Linked DNA regions of Homo sapiens: region 2 is linked to region 1. The links come from fine-mapping of genetic effects on gene expression. Tissue or cell type: whole blood. Region 1 holds a variant in brackets; the other region holds the start of a gene. All regions are shown on one strand. Distances are from middle to middle.

Evidence for each region. PIP is the estimated chance that this variant, and not a neighbour inherited with it, causes the effect.
Region 2: it holds the start of RBM28, and the variant in region 1 is fine-mapped to the expression of RBM28 in whole blood (TOPMed, PIP above 0.99).

The regions. Positions count from the first base shown.
Region 1 is chr7:128,295,471-128,303,240 of GRCh38, forward strand. RBM28 (RNA binding motif protein 28) reads right to left here. Exons shown (of 19, transcript NM_018077.3): 19 at 2,215-7,770. Among named protein-coding and RNA genes, the nearest start is that of RBM28, 45 kb to the right of the region's middle. RefSeq lists an enhancer at 3,746-4,040. The variant G/A (reference allele first, on the strand shown) is at 3,967.
Region 2 is chr7:128,340,800-128,347,184 of GRCh38, forward strand. RBM28 (RNA binding motif protein 28) reads right to left here and starts at 3,109. Exons shown (of 19, transcript NM_018077.3): 1 at 2,877-3,109. The coding sequence starts at 2,994. It also overlaps the pseudogene RNU7-27P. RefSeq lists an enhancer at 3,050-3,249.

The DNA of each region.
Region 1 (7,770 bases):
ATAACAGGAGCTGAAATTGTGGCAATAATCAATAGCTTACCAACCAAAAAGAGTCCAGGACCAGATGGATTCACAGCCGAATTCTACCAGAGGTACAAGGAGGAACTGGTACCATTCCTTCTGAAACTATTCCAATCAATAGAAAAAGAGGGAATCCTCCCTAACTCATTTTATGAGGCCAGCATCATCCTGATACCAAAGCCTGGCAGAGACACAAACAAAAAAGAGAATTTTAGACCAATAGTCTTGATGAACACTGATGCAAAAATCCTCAATAAAATACTGGCAAACCAAATCCAGCAGCACATCAAAAAGCTTATCCACCATGATCAAGTGGACTTCATCCCTGGGATGCAAGGCTGGTTCAATATAAGCAAATCAATAAATGTAATCCAGCATATAAACAGAACCACAGACAAAAACCACATGATTATCTCAATAGATGCAGAAAAGGCCTTTGACAAAATTCAACAACCCTTCATGCTAAAAACTCTCAATAAATTAGGTATTGATGGGACGTATCTCAAAATAATAAGAGCTATTTATGACAAACCCACAGCCAATATCCTACTGAACGGGCAAAAACTGGAAGCATTCCCTTTGAAAACTGGCACAAGACAGGGATGCCCTCTCTCACCACTCCTATTCAGCATAGTGTTGGAAGTTCTGGCCAGGGCAATTAGGCAAGAGAAGGAAATAAAGGGTATTCAATTAGGAAAAGAGGAAGTCAAATTGTCCCTGTTTGCAGACGACATGATTGTATATCTAGAAAACCCCATTGTCTCAGCCGAAAATCTCCTTAAGCTGATAAGCAACTTCAGCAAAGTCTCAGGATACAAAATCAATGTACAAAAATCACAAGCATTCTTATACATCAATAACAGACAAACAGAGAGCCAAATCATGAGTGAACTCCCATTCACAATTGCTTCAAAGAGAATAAAATACCTAGGAATCCACCTTACAAGGGACGTGAAGGACCTCTTCAAGGAGAACTACAAACCACTGCTCAATGAAATAAAAGAGGATACAAACAAATGGAAGAACATTCCATGCTCATGGGTAGGAAGAATCAATATTGTGAAAATGGCCATCCTGCCCAAGGTAATTTATAGATTCAATGTCATCCCCATCAAGCTACCAATGACTTTCTTCACAGAATTGGAAAAAACTACTTTAAAGTTCATATGGAACCAAAAAAGAGCCCGCATTGCCAAGTCAATCCTAAGCCAAAAGAACAAAGCTGGAGGCATCACACTACCTGACTTCAAACTATACTACAAGGCTACAGTAACCAAGACAGCATGGTACTGGTACCAAAACAGAGATACAGATCAATGGAACAGAACAGAGCCCTCAGAAATAACGCCGCATATCTACAACTATCTGATCTTTGACAAACCTGAGAAAAACAAGCAATGGGGAAAGGATTCCCTATTTAATAAATGGTGCTGGGAAAACTGGCTAGCCATATGTAGAAAGCTGAAACTGGATCCCTTCCTTACACCTTATACAAAAATCAATTCAAGATGGATTAAACACTTAAACGTTAGACCTAAAACCATAAAAACCCTAGAAGAAAACCTAGGCATTACCATTCAGGACATAGGCACGGGCAAGGACTTCATGTCTAAAACACCAAAAGCAATGGCAACAAAAGACAAAATTGACAAATGGGATCTAATTAAACTAAAAAGCTTCTGCACAGCAAAAGAAACTACCATCAGAGTGAACAGGCAACCCACAAAATGGGAGAAAATTTTCGCAACCTACTCATCTGACAAAGGGCTAATATCCAGAATCCACAATGAACTCAAACAAATTTACAAGAAAAAACAAACAACCCCATCAAAAAGTGGGCGAAGGACATGAACAGACACTTCTCAAAAGAAGACATTTAGGCAGCCAAAAAACACATGAAAAAATGCTCACCATCACTGGCCATCAGAGAAATGCAAATCAAAACCACAATGAGATACCATCTCACACCAGTTAGAATGGCAATCATTAAAAAGTCAGGAAACAACAGGTGCTGGAGAGGATGTGGAGAAATAGGAACACTTTTACACTGTTGGTGGGACTGTAAACTAGTTCAACCATTGTGGAAGTCAGTGTGGCGATTCCTCAGGGATCTAGAACTAGAAATACCATTTGACCCAGCCATCCCATTACTGGGTATATACCCAAAGGACTATAAATCATGCTGCTATAAAGACACACACACACGTATGTTTATTGCGGCACTATTCACAATAGCAAAGACTTGGAACCAACCCAAATGTCCAACAATGATAGACTGGATTAAGAAAATGTGGCACATATACACATATGCAGCCATAAAAAATGATGAGTTCATGTCCTTTGTAGGGACACGGATGAAATTGAAAATCATCATTCTCAGTAAACTATCGCAAGAACAAAAAACCAAACACCGCATATTCTCACTCATAGGTGGGAATTGAACAATGAGAACACATGGACACAGGAAGGGGAACATCACACTCTGGGGACTATTGAGGGGTGGGGGGAGGGGGGAGGGATAGCATTGGGAGATATACCTAATGCTAGATGACGAGTTAGTGGGTGCAGCGACCAGCATGTCACATGTATACATATGTAACTAACCTGCACAGTGTGCACATGTACCCTAAAACTTAAATAATAAAAAAAAAAGACAATACGCGCACAGTTGAACATAGACCCTTATCAGTAGTTCTGTTTTGCCTTTTGTCTTGTTTCCTCAGAAGCATGTGATCTTTGTTCTGCTTTTGCCCTTTGAAGCATGTGATCTTTGTACCTACTCCCTGTTTTACACCCCCTCCCCTTTTGAAACCCTTAATAAAAAACTTGCTGGTTTGAGGCTCAGGTGGGCATCACAGTCCTACTGATATGCGACGTCACCCCCGGCAGCCCAGCTGTTAAAATTCCTCTCTTTGTACTATTTCTCTTTATTTCTCAGTCGGCCGACACTTATGGAAAATAGAAAGAACCTATGTTGAAATATTGGGGGTGGGTTCCCCCAATACTTCTGTATTTTTCAGATTCTCTTTACTGAGCATATATTATTTTTACAATCAGAAAAAAATGAACGGATTTATTTTCAAATGCCCCCCATTGCTCTTCTTTAAATATACAGAATATATTCTTTACATATAAAACACTGCTCCTTCAGAGCCAAGCAAAGGATCACTCATTTTCCCCTTAACTGAGAACAAGGGCTGCACATGAACAAAACGCCTGCTTTAAAATGTACCCATGGCTGGATGCTGTGGCTCACACTTATAATCCCAGCACTTTGAGAGGCTAAGGTGGGTGGATCACTTGAGCTCAGGAGTTTGAGACCAGCCTGGGCAACATAGCGAAACTCTGTCTCTATAACAAATACACCAAAAATTAGCTAGGCATGGTGGTGTGTGCCTGTAGTCTCAGCTATTTGCAAGGCTGACGTGGGAGGATCACTAGAGCCCAGGAGGTCGAGGCTGCAGTGACCTGTGATTACACCACTGCACTCCAGCCTGGGAGACAGAGTGAGACCCTCTCTCTCAAAAAAAAAAAAAAATGTACCCATATTTGTTTTCATCAGGTATGGTAAGATGACAGACACAGAGAAAACTATCTCTGCAAGAAGAGTTTGTTATGCAGTTCCCAGGAGGAGAGGTGTGTCACGCCTTGCAGGGCCACACAGGAAGAACTTGGGTCAGCCAAGAAGCAGAGGGGGTGAGGGAAAAGCACGATCCAGCGCCTTTAATGTAGTTTCCAGCAGAAAGGCAAGGCAAGGCAGGGAAGCAGGCTTAGGATTGGCTAATCTGTATAACTTTGGCAGGCCCTGGCTATAGGGATTGTCCCTAGTTGTCCCATGCCTGGCCCTGGAGTGATTTAGGGCAGGGGGAATATTGGCTTGCTGTGTCAGAGTTTGATAAAGGAGGTGACTGGGGGTGTGGGCTCTGGATTGACTGGTTTGCATAC[G/A]AAAGGCACGCTCGACCAAGTTGTTTACTCTCTCCCCAAAGTAGCTAGCCCTGGGAGGGGCAGTCTCTCCAGGATAATGCATTATAAAAACAACAACAGCACCTGATTAGTATAATGACATATGTTTCTCTTCACAGCAGTTTGTAATAGCAAAGGTTGGAAACCGTTGAATGGGATTTCCATCACATAAAGAACTGGTTATGTAAATTATGTTACACTGATACAATCCAATGAGCCTCCCTTCAGAGAGAGGCACCCTCATGGCCTAATTACTTCTTTAAGGACCCCATCTCAATACTATCACATTGGCAATAACCTGAATTTTGGAAGGGACACATTCAAACCATAGCAGAGATGTAATCAAATTAAGATGAAATCATTGGGCTGGGCCTAAGCCAATATGACTGGTGTCTTTATAAGAAGAGGGAAATTTGGACATAGACCTATAGACACAGGGAGAAGATGGCCATGTGACAACGAGGCAGAGACTGCAGTGATGCATCTATATGCCAGGCAACGCCAAGAAATTCCTCATGAAGGAACCAACCTTGCCAACACTTTGATTTTAGACTTCTAGCCTCCAGAACCGTAAGGTGATAAATTTCTGTTGTTTAAGCCACCCAGCCTGTGGTACTCTCTTACAGTAGCCCTCCTGACTAATATAGGCCCTTTCTCAACTTTCCCTAGAAGCCCAGGTTTCCTTGCTACAACCCTGGCAGAGGCTTTGGCACATTTCACCCCTCCTCTCTTTGTGATTGGTTTTCACAAAGAAGCTCAAAGTGGAGGAATGATCTCTGGACATGAAGCCTGAGGACCATGCAAGCTCCTTCCTGCCAGAGGCTCTGTTCTGGGTTCTACCTGACCTGGACTCTGAGGGCTCTGAGCAGGGAAGGGTTAGAACCCAGCGTGGATCAAACATTTGAGATGAATCAGCACTGATAGCTGGAATGTGAGCTCCCAAGTGGCTTGAGCTCACTCTGCTCAGGACCCTCTGCAGCTCCTGGGGGAACACTGGCACAGACGGGTGCACAGTTAATATTCAGTTAACACCGGCTGGCTGAATGAAGGGCGAGCTATCTTGAGCCTGACTTTTCTGATCCTTCAATGAGCATGCTAACATCATCCAACCCCTGACCTTGTGGTGAGGATCAAAGACGTTAATGCCCACTAAACGCTTTCTACGATGCCTGGAAACAACTGTTATCAATACTGTGCTATGTTTTAGTAAAGAGGGCTGTTCCCTGAGAGCAAAATTGGCAAGTGGGTCTCACCTCCCATGCTGACTCCAATTGTTGGGTGCGGTTGCATGGATTGATGTCAAAAGCCTCCCAAGGCCCAGTCTGGGCCAGATGCAGGGACTGTCATGATCCCTTAGCAGTGTTTGCTCTGGAAAAGGAGGAACAGGGACCTGGGTGCCATCTCTTCACAGCGCTCCACCCCTAGGGCCTGCTTAAATGGCACAGCCAGCTCCTCAGAGAGACAGGACACACTCTCCTTCTGCCTGCAGTTGTGAGGAAAGAAGGGGCACTGAGGAGGATGGGTCACCCCGGGAGCAGAGCCTGGCTCATATCCTGGTATCCCTGCAGAGGCTGGAGGTGGGGCCAGCACCACCTGAGGACATGTAGCCTTCCCAGGATTCTGGCGTGTGTTCCCATCCCTAGCAGGAAAGAAGTGGAAATTAGCCAATCACCCTGGAAGTGGGCAACCAGTCTTTCTCCCCTTTCCTGTGAATTCACTCAGGACACTGGGGACAAAAGACATCACAGACCCTATCTCCCGTGCTCTTTTACAGTGGCTATTTCATTTAGTACTAGGGGGCTTTTTGCCTGTATTTTATAAATGAGCAAAGAGGACTGGAGGGTCTGAGTGATTTGTCCAGGGTCATCCTCTGTCCTTTGGCTTTTACCTGTGTCACCACAGCCTCCTGGGGAGATGGCTGTGAAAGTGGGCAAAGGGTGAGTCTCAGCTTCACAGGGCTGCAGCATCAGCAGCCTCTCTTGCCTGTCCGTCAGCACTGACAGGGGCAACACCTGGCCTGGCACAAGGCTCTCCGCTTCTTGCCCTCAGGACTTGGAGTCTCTTGGAAGGAGCCTCAGCCCTTCTCTTGGTTCCTGCTTTTGTCTCTAGCCTTCCTAGAGTAGCTCAGATCAGTTCACACCCCTCTACCCACGACTACCCAGGAAAGGACATGATCCCTCATTAAGACCCAGCTATTGCCTAAGGGTCACTGAGGGCCTCAAACCCCAGAGGCTCTGTGGCAGGCACCTGGGAGCCCACTTGGCGGGCCTTGCCCTGGCCCAGACATCACAGACCACTCTCACTGCACTGGCTATTAAGTGCCTGCTCTCTACTAGGGATTCCTAGGGGGTGGCCAAGAGAAGGAAAGACACCCCCACAGGAAGGATGGGCCCAGAAACTGACTTTCCATGGCTCCGACGAGGGGTCCTGAGGCACTCTATCGAAGTGCAAGTCCCTGAATCTGTGTCCCAAGCTCTGAAAATGCAAGAGGTGCTTGGAGCAAACAGGGAGTGTCCTGTCACTGAAGGTCTGCAAGCAGAGGGGTAAGGGACTGTTTGCCTCCTACAGATTTCCCTTCTTTCTCTTCTTCTGGGCCTCTGGGCCAGAGACAGGCATTTTACTTGATGCGATCATCCTCAGCACATGCCTGACACATAGTAGGTGCTCAGTAATTGTTAGCTGTTGTTATTAACCATTATGTGAGTTTAGAGTGCCCGTCCTATTGCAGAGAGGGAGAGAGCAGAGACAAATGGTGATTCTAAGAACCTGTCCCCTTCCCTGGGACTCACTCCAGTGGCTGGTCGCCAGTTGCACCCACACGCGGCTGGCTGCGGGCAGGAGAGCTGGGCTCATTCGTTCTGGCAGCTGTCCCTGCAGATGAGGATCGAGGGTATGTGACTGCCTGAGCAGCTACTTCAATCCTAATGTCCCTTTAATAGCTCTCGTCAAATTGCCACAGCTCTCCCCAGAGATTTTCATGGCTATGGAAAATAAATAGCCATTATCTGACCTCCAGGGGAATGAAGATGTCTGCAGAATTCGGGGAAAAGCAGTTATAAAACTGAGTAGAGCCAGCGCACCCTTTCCCTATTAGCAACCTCTAAGGGAGTCCTAGCTACTGCCTAGGAAATCACAAAATAAATGTATTCACTCCTCAGACTCTCTTTTTTCACCTATTAGTATGTATATGAGTACATTTGGCTTGTGGTAGATCAGGAGAGAGAAAGAAAGAAAAAACAACTACAAAAATATGTAATGATTAGTTAGTCCAGGGGTAGCAGGAAAAGAAGCTGGTCAAGTAAAGGGTTTAATCCTTTTTTATTTTTATTATTTTTTTAGACAGGGTATCACGCTGTTGCCCAGGTTGGAGTACAGTGGTACAACCATAGCTCACTGCAGCCTCAAACTCCTGGGCTCAAGCAATCCTCCTGCCCCAGCCTCCCGAGCAGCTGGGACTACAGTGCACACCACCACACAAGGCTAATTTTCAAATTTTGGGCAGTTTTACTATGTTGCCCAGGCTGGTCCTGAACTCCTGGCCTCAAGGGATCCTCCCATCTCAGCCTCCCATAGTGCTGGGGTTACAGGTATGAGCCACCAAGCCCAGCTGGAAGTTTTTAAAACGTTTCAACATTCAAAGAATGTGAGAATGAAAATGCCCTTCCTTTTCTTACCACCTAATTTGGAAAAGAGAAACTATTTTTTTAATCCCAAAAACATTTGGTATAGCTGGCAAAAAGTGTTCTGTTCTTATATATGAGACAGTTCCTGAAATAGGCCCTAGAG
Region 2 (6,385 bases), 45 kb after region 1:
ATCTTTAGAACACCTCAAAATAGGTAAAGCAAATATTATCACCCCTTCTTTCCAAGTAAGTAATTTGAGATGGAAGACAGTAAGTGAATTGGTTAATGTCACACAGGGTGTTAGTAGCTGAATTAACTCCTCCTCACCAGCCCCCATGTTCTTCCATAGGACTCCACAAAGAATAATATTAGGACCAAGGAGATGAAAACTACAAATATCAACTGTAACCCACCTTTGCCCTTTTTGGTTTAACATTTTGTATAGTAAAATTTTAAATAATTTATTGCATCAAAAAGGAAAAGGACAGATCAAGAAGTCTGCCTTTACCTGAAAAGGACACATAGTTCATATGCTCTGCTTCTCTTTCCACTGCATTTGAATCTCCTTCAGGGTATAAGCCCTTTGACACAGGACACTGATCTACATAAACTGGTTAAAGCAACATAACATCAATTTTTCTCTTCTCTTGAACTCCTTATCATAAAAGCTGCCCACTCACCTTTCAGAAAATGAGCACAAGAAAATTCATAGCCCTTCATGATCAGTACAACCAAAAGTAAAGCAGCTGAAATGTAAAAGAGTTTGACACCCAAATGAAAGGACATACAGTAAATACCACACATTTTACATGTCTGCATAAAGCATGCTCACATACATTTAGAGTCCCTGACAACCCTGTGAAATTATTCCCATCTTAAAGAGGTGAAGTGACATGCACTGCTATTGAGGAAGACTTCATTCCACATACCCTCCCTCCCGTTTCACTGAGTGCAGCACTCTTTCCAGTACATATCAGCTGTCTGGATAGGAAAGTGCATAGTTTTTTAAAAGGAAGTAAGAGATTTTTAAGGATTTAGACCAAGTACACAAGGTGTAAGGTAAGATTGCATGTAGCCTATATTCTGAGGACTCAAAGGAGAACTCCCATTCAATGGCCTATTCTTCCCTGGAATACAACCACCTGGGTACGGAATGCTACTTACACTGGAACCCAGTACATACATATATTCTTTATTTAAAACTTAAAAGTTTTACAAATACTTATCCTTTACCATATATGGACGTACTCCTATACTATTTAATTTTTTAAGAACTCTAGGCCAGGCGTGGTGGCACATGCCTGTAATCCCAGTGCTTTGGGAGGCCAAGGCAGGAGGATCATTTGAAACCAGCCTGGACAACGTAGTGAGACCCTGTCTCTACAAAAAATATTCAAAAATTGGCCAGGCATGGTGAAGCACGTCTGTAGTCATAGCTACTTGGGAGGCTGAAGTAGGAGGATTGCTTGAGCCCAGGAGTTTAAGGTTACATTGAGCTGTGATCGCACCACTGCACTCCAACTGTCAACAGGGTTGACAGAGCAAGACCCTGTTTCTAAAACACAACAAAACAAACTCTAGTCATGACCCACTCAAGACCCACTAATAGGTAATAATCTGCAGTTTAATAAACATTACTGTACAGGACTTTCGGTCCCTATTTTAAGTACATAAGCTTTTGTCCTATTCTCCAACAGTCTATTGGCAACACACCAGCCAGAGAGAGAATCTTTCAAAACGAATGCCAGATCACACTTACTGCTCTCTGCTTAAAATCAGTGGCTTCCTATCTCTGAGTAAAAGCCAAAGTCCTTGCAATGGTCTATAACATCCTACATGAGGCGGGCGGATCACCTGAGGTCTCGAGTTCCAGACAACCCTGGCCAACATAGCGAAACCCCGTCTCTACTAAAAATACAAAAATTAGCCAGGTGTAGTGACACTCGCCTGTAATCCCAGCTACTTGGGAGGCTGAGGCAGGAGAATGGGTTGAACCAGGAGGCAGAGGTTGCAGTGAGCGGAGATCGTGGCACTGCACTCCCGCCTGGGCGACAGAGCAAGACGCAGTCTTTAAAAAAAAAAAAAAATCTTACATGATCTGCTACTCTAGATCTCATCTCCTAATTCTCTTCCCTTTACTCACTTCAATCCAGTCACCCTGTCCTCCTTACTACTCCTCCAATATACCAAAAACACCTCTGTTTCAGTACCTTTGAGCTTGCTGTTTTCTCTTCCTGAATTGTTCTTCCTCCGGAGAGGCATGTGTTCACTCTCTCACCTCAGTCCGTCCTTCTCTGGCCACCCTATCTATATTGCCACTCTTCACCCCCTCTCCCCACTATACACATGCACATAGACTTCCTAACCCCTTTCCCTGGCTTATTTTTCTCCTTAGCATTTGACATCATTTTCACGGTTGGCTTGTTTATTGGCTCGTTTATTGGCTCTCTTCCCCACCTTGAAGACATAAAATCAAAGATTTTTTTGGTTTGGTGTTGTGCACTGCTGCATCCCCAGGACCTACAACACTTCCTGGCACACAGTAGGTATTAAGTATTTGCTGAATAAATGAATGAACAAGTGGATAGCATCCTGGCTAAGATGTCCAGGTCTGAGGATCAAATCGGGGGTCCACTACTTAACAGCCGTACAAACTTAAAGTTACTAAATTCCCCTAAATCCCGGATTCCTGTCTGTAAAATGACATTAAGACTCTCCATCCGGTAAGATTGCTGAGAAAATTAAATGAGATAACCTGTATCAAACTGATCACTGTACCTGCCAATCAGGTGACTCTCAATAAGTCTTACTGATGCTCTAGTTAACTATTTTCATTTTTAGCGCGCATAATCAACAGAAAGCGCTATAGAAACGTAAGGGAATGCTTTGCCCTTCATAAACTGACTCCTATGAACGCATCTAAAGCAGAATCAGTTTGGAAAAGAAACTCAGTTCCCTGTCCCTTCTCTTCGGGGAGGGTAAAGAATGATACGGCTCCCTGAAGTTTGGGAAGGTGCCCTCGATCGCAGGAAACCCCAGCCCTATCCTCGACCGCCCCGCCCCTACCTTTTTCAGTCACCACGAAGCACTGCTTCACCGGCCCCACCTGACTGAACAGTTCCTCCAGCTGCTCACTGCGGGCCGAGGGCGGGAGGCGGCCCACAAATAAGGTCAGGCCGGCCATGAGACCGGGAAACCCAAAGCGCGTGAGGACGCGAGCAAACTAGGCCGGCGCACGCGAGCCGAAACGCTGGCTTTGGTAGGACAACCAAGCTCACACGCCGAGAGATTCCGGAAGTGCTCGTTGCCCAAAAGAGACCGGAGGAAAACATGGTCGGGAGGGGGATAAAAGGTTCCGGAATGAAAAAATAATGGCGCCCCGGGGCGTAGCTTCTGGAGCGGGGCTCCGCCCCCTGCCCTAGCATCGCCCTCGCCACTTTTGTGTAAACTTGGCATCAATAATTTCTACCCTAGTGTTACAGCTTTTTTAGAATTTGCCTAGCAGGCTTTCTGGTTTTTGCCGGAAGGCCTCCAAAAAGTAATTTTTTTTCTTAATATACAAAATAAAAATAAATAATTTCTACCCTGTTTAAAAATCTCACCTCCAGATCCTCCCCAAAGTTAGCAGGACAGGCAGAAGAAGTCGTTTTTGCCCCGGGCGTAACTCAGGATCTGATATACTGTGGGTGTTTGATATTTTCTGAAGTGCCTCCACAAATTCCCAGATTACGTGCATAAAACACAACCGGAACACTAACACGTAGACATAGATATATCATATACATCATTCGGACGATTCTCATTTTCGGAGAACACCAGCTGTCTGTCACCTCAGCCTCACAAACAAATTGTAGCTACTAAAATACACATAGACACAGATAGTACACAATTATTATTTCAATAAATATATACTGAGCTCTAACTATGAGCCAAGCATTAGGGATAAAACTGGTGAGCAAAGAAATGACAGGGTCCCTGCCCTCATAGAGATTACAGTCTAATGGTGGAAACAGATTTTTTTTTTTGACAGGGCCTCACTTTATCAACCAGGCCGGAGTGCACTGGCACGATCTCGGCTTACTGCAGCCTCGACCTCCCAGGTTCAAGCAGTCCTCCTGCCTCAGCCTCCTGAGTAGCTGGAACTACAGGTGCACCACCACACCCGGCTAATTTTTGTATTTTTTGCAGAGACAGGGTTTCACCATGTTGCCCAGGCTGGTCTCAAACTCCTGAGCTCAATTAGCCCCCCTTAGCCTCCTAAAGTGCTAGGATTATAGGTGTGAACCACCACACCTGGCTGGGAAGACTATTAGTCCAAAAATTCTTACAAATAAATCACAGCACACACACTGCAGGACCACATCAAACACACTCAAAGCAAACATAACATCCAACTTATACACAGAGACCTAGAACCCATGTCCTCCTAGAAACAGAAGATCTTTGTCTCAAGTCAGCTCATCAGACAGACCCAAAGCTGAGAGCTCTTAATTGGCTAGGAAATCTGGGTGCTCCTGGTTCTGGAACACAGAGAGTGTTTGCCATGCCACTGGGCTCAGGACCTGAATAGGTGCAAGAGAGCTACACCTTGCAGAACAACTAGCTCAAAAAAAAGTACCCAAGGCCATTTTTTAAATAATTTTTTTTTTAGCAGACTCTTGCTCTGTCACCCAACTTGGGGTGCAGTGGCACCATCATGGCTCACTGCAGCCTTGATCTCCTGGGCTCAAGCAATACTGCCACCTCAGCCTCCTGAGAAGCTAGGACCACAAGTGTGTACCACCATGCCTGGCCAATTTATTTATTTTTTTGTACAGACAGTTCTCCCTGTGTTGCCCAGGCTAGTCTTGAACTCCTGGGATAAACCAATCCTCCCACTACGGCCTCCCAAAGTGTTGGGATTATAGGCGTGAGCCACTGAGCCCAGCCAAATCATTACTTTTAAATGATAGTAACATGGCAGATAGAAAACTCAAAAACTTTACAGTTTTAGTACCTTTTATAAGGCACTATGGTGAAAATTAAGTTTCATGATCTCCTCAAGCCCCATTCACTTTCAATACATTTTGGATGGCTAGACGACTGGTTGATAGTGATGGGAGTGGAGATTAGGGGGACGCTAAACATCACATTTATGGAGCTCTAGTTCGAAGTAAGTAATCTATGCTTAAAATAAAACTTCACGATTATTTTTTAAAAATACAACTCACGGCCAGGAGCGGCCGTGATCCCAGCACTTTGGGAGGCCGAGGTGGGTGGATCACCAGATCAAGGGTTCGAGACCAGCCTGGCCAACATGGTGAAACCCCGTCTCTACTAAAAATACAAAAAGTAGCCGGGCATGGTGGCACATGCCTGTAATCCCAGCTACTCGGGAGGCTGAGGCAGGAGAATCGCTTGAACTCAGGAGGCAGAGGTTGCAGTGAGCCGAGATTGCACCACTGCACTCCAGCCTGGGCAACAAAGGAAGACTCCATCTCAAAAAAATATATAACTCACTTTGGGAGATCAAGATGGGTAGATCACTGGAACTCAGGAGTTCGAGACTTCTGAAAATAAAATACAAGTTTATTTTTCTTTTTTTCTGAGCAGAGTCTCGCTCTGTCACCCAGGCTGGAATGCAGTGGTGCGATCTCGGTTCACTGCAACCTACACCTCCTAGGTTCAAGCAATTCTCCTGCCTCAGCCTCCTGAGTAGATGAGATTACAGGCACCCACCACCATGCCTGGCTAATTTTTGTATTTTCAGTAAAGACAGAGTTTCACCAACTTGGCCAGGCTGGTCTTGAACTCCTGACCTCAAGTGATCAGCCGTCATCGGCCTCCCAAAGTGCTGGGATAACAGGCATGAGCCACCATACCCAGCCTAAACTTTATTTTTCAACATTAGCTCCATCAAGTTCAAAACACATTTGTAAGCAATGATACCAGCCACTTAGTCCATCTCTAAAGAACTTAAGGTCTTTGGAATTTAAGCATGTCAATGCAGTCTCTCTCTCTCTCTCTCTCTCTCTCTCTCTCTCTCTCTCTCTCTCTCTCTCTCTATATATATATATATATATATATATATATATATATATATATATATATATAATTGAAGAAAAATGTGAGCCCCTTAAAGATTTTTTAAGATTAGGAAACAAAACTAAGTCAGAAGGAGCCAAAATAGGACCTTAAGGTGGATGCCTAATGGTTTCCCATTAACACTCTTGAAAAATTGCCCTTGTTTGAGAGAGGAGTGAGCAAGAGCACTGTGATGGAGAAGGGCCCTCTCTGTTGAAGGTTTCCCCTAGGTATTTTTCTGCTAAAGGTTTGGCTAACTTTCTCAGAACCCTCTCACAATAAGCAGATGTTATCATTCTTTGGCCCTCCAGAAAGTCAGACAGAAAAAAAAAAAAATGCCTTGTAGGCCCGGTGTGGTGGCTCATGCCTGTAATCCCAGCACTTTGGGAGGCCAAGGCGGGCGGATCACCTGAGGTTGGGAGTTTGAGACCAGCCTCAGAAACATGATGAAACTCCATCTCTACCGAAAGTACAAAATATTAGCTGGGCTGTGGTGGCATGCACCTGTGGTC